Regions from separate parts of the Homo sapiens genome. Here region 1 is linked to region 2. Evidence: fine-mapped QTL for protein levels in blood plasma. A gene starts in region 2. The other region holds a variant in brackets. All regions are shown on one strand. Distances are from middle to middle.

Region 1 (2,899 bases), 53 kb before region 2:
ACCCTCAGCGCCAGGACGCAGGTGGGCTCTGGGGAAGCCGTCACAGAGGAGTCACCAGCACCCCCGAATGAAGGTAGGTGCATGGCAGCAGCCCCTGGGGTAAAAGGTCCCAGCTAATTCCGAGGCCTAGAGAAACACTGAGATCTGTAGCTGGCTGCCTGGGATGGAGAGGAAATGAGACTTGCAAGTCCTCAAGCCCTCGGAAGGTGAGAACCCATCTTATGTGTGAGAGGTAGGTGCTGGCATTGTATCTGGAGCTCAGCTCTCCTTGGACCACTGTGGTCACACCTGGGTCCCCACTTGCCCTGACTTGCTCAGTCACTTGACATCTATCATCTTTCCTTCTTGTAGAGGAATAAGGAAGAGAGCATGAGTTGAGAAATGAGAGAAATCATAATGAACTCCAAAGAACAGTGAGTGTTCACCTCTTGAGGGAGGCAGGAATATGATTGTGAGTGCTCCCATGAGGGCTCTGGGGACAACCTTCTTTCTTCGAAGGCACATGGGTTCAAGGAGGTAGGGGAAACCGTCAGGATGACGCTGTTACTGGCATCATGAGTAGAGCAGAGAATGTGGTCCTTCCTTGCAGCCTGAATTGGATGCGTTGTCAGGCTGCAGAGAGGAGGAGGAGTTAGGAAACAGCCATTTGCCAAGCCAGCTTCACAAAGAGCAAATGAGTTCATCACCTGGGTCCAGGCGTCATCTGGCAGCATTTCAGCCCCACCAGAGCTGCACCTGCCTGAGGACTCCACTAGAGGGGGCTCCAGGCTCACCCGCACACGCACTGGCATCAGGGGAATGTGCAGTCTGGGACCTCTCGAGGAGGCAAGGCTGCAAAAGCCTCAATACTGGCACACCCTCTGGGAAAGGCTGGGGACCCCCGTGTGTCTCCAGAGATACAATGGTCTATTCAACAGCCATTTCTTGAGTACCCACAATGTGAGGTGCCAGACACTGCCACACACAAGGGATATACAAAGGTAACAAGAAGCTCACACCATCTAGAGGGGGAGTCATCTATAAGAATATCTAATTGCATGTCTAAATGAGGGGGCGCAGTGGCTGGGCAGAGAAGGGGATTCAGTCTTCACGGGAAGACTCCAGAGAAGAGGTGATGTGAGTGGGCACTCTGGAAGCTGACAAGTCATCGTGTCTGGTGCTTTCCACAGAAGGGTCAGGTCCCGTGGCCTGGCCCAGGCCCAGACGGGGTCTTCTGAATACCACCCCTACCCGCATTCCAGGAGAGCATCAGTGCTGCCTTCTCTGGGGCTACCAGGCCCGCTGCGTCACCCCGGGATCCCAGGCAGCTTCACAAGCTGCCCACATCCTTCCCCAGCCCACCACTCTAGCCAGTAGACCAGCGCTGAGGCAGGAGAAGAGGGGCCAGGCAGAAGCAGAGAAAGGCTGACAGCCCGCTCTGCATCCCTCTCTGGTCTCAGAAACCAGGAGTGAGTCACACAACCAGCTCTCCCTCCTGCTGTGCTCTTCTGCACTCTCCCAAGCCCCTGGGCACTCGGGAAGTTTATTAGGGCAGGGGGACTTAGGTTAGTGGCTGATGTGTGTCTGTCACCAAAGGCCAGGCCAGGCCAGGCCATGATGCACTTTCTTGATTACTCAATTCTGCAAATAGATAGATAAAGAGAGCCCCTTCTTCCCTCCCTATGTGCACCCCAATACAGAACATCAGATAACAAAG[C/T]CCTATTGTCCAGCCCCAGTAACCACCACAGAGAATGTTCTGCAGCCCCAGGGGACAAAAGGACAAATAGAGGCTTTTTTCTTAACTTAGGGCTTTGCAGAAAATTCAAGAATTTCACTTAGGGCTCTCAGTCCAAAAAAAAAAAAAAAAGAAAAAGAAAGAAAAAAGAAAGGGCTCTCAGTCCAAACTTGGGTTTCTAACTTCATAAAGTCCAACTGGAGGGGAAGAATTGGAGTGACGGAATACCAGGAGAGGGGCTCCAGGCTCCATCCTTCAAAGTTCCCGCCTTCCAAGGTTGCGATGGTGTGGAGTGGGTGCAGCTGAACATGCTCCCTCTCTCCTATCCATCCCACTATTCAGCATCTTCCCCCAAAGACAGGAACCATCCTTTTGACTGGAGTTGGTGTCCTCCCACACCACCTACTCCTTATCCCCTCAATTCCTGGCATCATGGAGCGTCACCCAGCCTGCTCAAAGGTCATGCCAACCTAGCCAGAGCAGGACATGCTGTTGAGGACAGAGCTGGGAACATAATGCTCTGAGTGGACTGTCCCTGCAGCCACCTTTTAGATGTCCAGTCCTTGAATCGAGGTAGAAACAGTGTGTTAGAAAGGTCTCCAAGGCCCAGGTGGAAAGGTTTCTGTAGGAACATGCCTGACTCAGGTGGAGTTGACCGTGAACCCTGAATGCCAGTTGGCATCCTCAGGCCAGCAGCCAGCACCTGGCCACGCCGTCTGCATAAGGTTTGGGCTGGAACCTTCCCTGCTTTCCTTGTCCTGTGGTCTCACTTGTGCTCTGTTTTCTCTTCCCTTTTCCATCCTTTCTCCCTCTGTCTGGCCATCTTGGGCGCTGTGTTCTGAAGCTACTCCAACCGCAGGTACCGTACCAGCCGCGGAGGTAATGGGCATGGCATGGGGCAGCGCAGGCGGAGCCCAGCCCAGCCAGGGCGGACAAGGAGGGAGAGGCTCAGGCTGAAAGCATGCTCCAGACTCACCCTTTCAGTGGTTGGGAAGCCAGACTGTCAAGAGGGATGTGTGTGGAGGATGGGACCAGAGGAGAGCAAGCCCACTTTCCCCCCTTCCCAAACTATTTGCCCCCTGCTGAGTAGGAGAATGGCTCAGCAGGGGTCACACACACACCGGCCCTGACCTGCTCTCTGGAGCTGCAGTTTCATTCTGACACTGAGTAGATTACTTCCCGTTA
Region 2 (2,899 bases):
GGAAGGAAGGGAAAGATATCCTGGCAAGGGGTTGATGTGTCTGTCTATATAACAGCATTCAACATTATTTAAGAAACATCATTAGCAAAATCCAAGTCCTCCCCATCAGGAACAAAGAAGACTATCTCTCAAGTTGGGCAAGCCCTTTGGAGGGGCTCAGAAGGAAAGGAGGGGAGCGCATGTGGGACCTGGGCAGACATTCCAGCCTTGGAGGCTGAGCAGCAGAACCTCCCCGACTCCTTCTCCTTTTCCAGACCCTCTCATTCTGGCCCAGGTCCCCAGGACCTCCTCCACTCAGGGAGACATGGAGCCATGATCCAGGCTTGACAGGTATAGCCATTTAAAACTGGGAGGCTGGCCTGGCCCTGCCAGCTGTTGCAGCATCTGGACTGCTCACCGGTCTTGCCTGTGCAAGCTGGACAGCAGGCAGATCAGAGGGGGGTGAGACAACAGTGACAGCCTGACAGGGCCGACTGGTGCCGCAGATGGCTGGTCCCTCCGCCTCCGGGCCACAGCCTTCCTGGGCACTCCCCCACGTGACCGGAGCAGGGCAGGAGAAAGGCATCGCTGACAAGGGTGAGCACTTAGAATCTCAGAGCTGGCAGGACTGTGTCCATCTTTAATCCCTTCAGGTACCAGCGAGGCTCAGAGAGGGCAGGGCACCTAGCCAAGCACACACAGCCAGTCGGTTGTGGAGCCCAGAGTATGCTTCAGACACCCAGACCCCTAATCCAGGGAGCTTTTCATGACATCACACTGCTGGTTGCTTAAAAATGGGATTGGATCCAAACGTACTGATGCGTAAAAGTGTCCAAGATCAGTTACACAGTTAAAAGTCTTTGGCCAATCCTACTGTTTTATGTAATCACATTTGTGTGAAATAACCCTACTAACCCATGTAATTGTATACACGAAAATAATAAACCTGGGGGCATGTACTTAGATTTATTAAGAGTAGTGGTTGAGGGACTTTCACTATGTATTTTTAAATGTCCTCTAATATTTAGATATTTTGACAAAAAGCTCAAACTACTTTTGAACAAGGGAAACAATAAAGAGGAACATGGGGTGGACCGGGCAACAGAGACAGCCCCTCCCTGCCACTTGCCCCACACAGCAAGCTGGGATTTCTGATTTGGATCTCTTCCTCGGATAGGGGATTTCTGGGGAAACCAGGAGTTTTGGCTCCATGGGTCTCCAGGGTTTGAGGAGTAAGAGCCACTTTCTTTTCCCTCTTCACCCCGCCCCTCTCCTGCCCCTTCAGCCCTGGGCAGGGGGACTAGAAGTGGGGCTGGGCAGGATCGGGAGGGCAGGCGGGCCAGACAGCGCCCCGCGGCCTGTCCATGAGCGGCCCATGCATTATGGAAGACGCGCGCTGGGCTCGCTCCCTGGTCCTTAAATGACAGCAAATGAGGTAAAGCCAGGAGGGTGGGGACGGAAGTGGGGTGGGAGGGGGGCAGAAGGAAGCCATCTCCAGGGCCCCCGAGCGTTGGCTGAGGACCAGAGCCAGCCAGTGAGCGGAGCCTGGGAGAGGGAGGAGCACATCTTGATGCAGAGATGCTGCAGTGGCTCCGGGCGCGCTCACACACACGCGCCCTCACCCGCCACCGCCGCCGCGGCCGCCGCCGCACCCGGACAGCGAGCGGCTGAGGCCGCCAGGGCCCAAAGGACAGCGGCCCAGACAGGGGCTGGCGGCCCGGCCGGCCCCGGCTCACCGACTCGGGCAGCATCCACCTGCCCCAGCCAACACCCTTCTCTCGCCCCAGGTAGGTGCCAACCGCTTTTGTCTCCTCCAACCCAGGGACTTCCCTGCGTGCTGTTATGGGCCGGGGCTCCCGGCTCAGTTCCTGTAAATATCCCCCTTGTAACTTGGGAGGGAACAGGGACAGGAACACTGGCAGGCTGGGGCCGTTCTGACTTCTCCCCTCAGCCCCAGGGTGGGTGCTGGGGCTCCCCTCCGCCCTGTCTACGTGGGCGGCATCCCGCAGGGCTCTCTCAGGCCGAGCCTGGCCGAAAAGCTGGACCCCAGGAGTGTGTCCAGGAATTCCAGTTGGCCAGCGGGCAGTGGCAGCTGCCTGTGGAGAGGGCAGTTTCTCCTGGGCCGGCCCTGGGCACCCGGTCCAGGACAGGACCAGTCCATACAGCCAGGCCCTGGGCCCTGGCCTGCCCCAGAAGTCCCTGCATGGAATTGAGCCGGAGTCCCCAGTTTTGAGGTCACCCAGGGTCTACCTCTGCAGGGTGACCTCTTTGCAAAGTCTTGCTTCAGCTGGATGGAGAGGGGGGCTGTGGAAGAGAGAGGGGAGAGTGGAGCACAAGTTTGGGCAAGGGCCTGTCCAGGAACTGGGACTCGGGGAGGAGAGTCCTGAGGCCAGTCACATCCCAAAGGGCGAGAGGCTGGGGCTACCGGGCTGAAATTCCTTTCCTTCCCTTCCCCCTCCCAACCTTAGCTTCTCCTCAAATCCCTCCCCCCCATCCTCACTGGTGGGAGGGAAGAATTTGCACAAAGTTTGGCTTTCCAGTAAGGAAAGGGGCTGGGGCCAGAATGGTATGGGGAAGGGAAGGGGCAGAGCTGGGGAGTTCTGGAAAGAGAGGGCAATCCTTCTGCCCAGCACCGTGGGGCTTACATAATGGGCTGGAGGTGGGGGGCAGCCCCAGCCAGTGAGTGTCCAGAGCTGAATCCTGTCACCTTCTCCAAGAGGGTCTCTCAGGTCTGGGAAGCAGCGGGGCATGGAGAAGGCAGTGCCTATGGAAGGGGAGAATCCTGCTGCTACTTGGGGATGGAGACGGGCACCCTCTAGCCCCAGACCCCTGGGGGTTGAGCCTGTGTCCTGGGGGGGGGGGTCCAGTGAGGCCAGGAGGGAGTGGGGTTGTGCATGCCATGGCCCCAGCCCTGGAGAAA

Direction of the effects. Positions count from the first base shown, and alleles are read on the strand shown. Strength reflects both the effect of a copy and how common the allele is.
As copies of T replace C in region 1, the plasma level of the protein whose gene starts at base 1,584 in region 2 goes down (moderate association).

The links. A credible set is the group of variants that fine-mapping cannot tell apart. PIP is the posterior inclusion probability: the model's chance that the variant is causal. The UK Biobank Pharma Proteomics Project read protein levels with antibody pairs (Olink). The fine-mapping took linkage between variants from a reference panel, not from the people measured, so its PIPs are less certain.
Region 1: its variant is the best candidate, but not a certain one, in a credible set for the plasma level of the CNTN2 protein (UK Biobank, PIP 0.90).

What each region holds. Positions count from the first base shown.
Region 1 is chr1:204,988,734-204,991,632 of GRCh38, forward strand. NFASC (neurofascin) reads left to right here. Exons shown (of 30, transcript NM_001005388.3): 23 at 1-73; 24 at 2,559-2,573. Among named protein-coding and RNA genes, the nearest start is that of CNTN2, 53 kb to the right of the region's middle. RefSeq lists an enhancer at 902-991. The variant C/T (reference allele first, on the strand shown) is at 1,697.
Region 2 is chr1:205,041,629-205,044,527 of GRCh38, forward strand. CNTN2 (contactin 2) reads left to right here and starts at 1,584. Exons shown (of 23, transcript NM_005076.5): 1 at 1,584-1,766. RefSeq lists enhancers at 1,278-1,422, 1,370-1,514 and cis regulatory regions at 1,350, 1,442.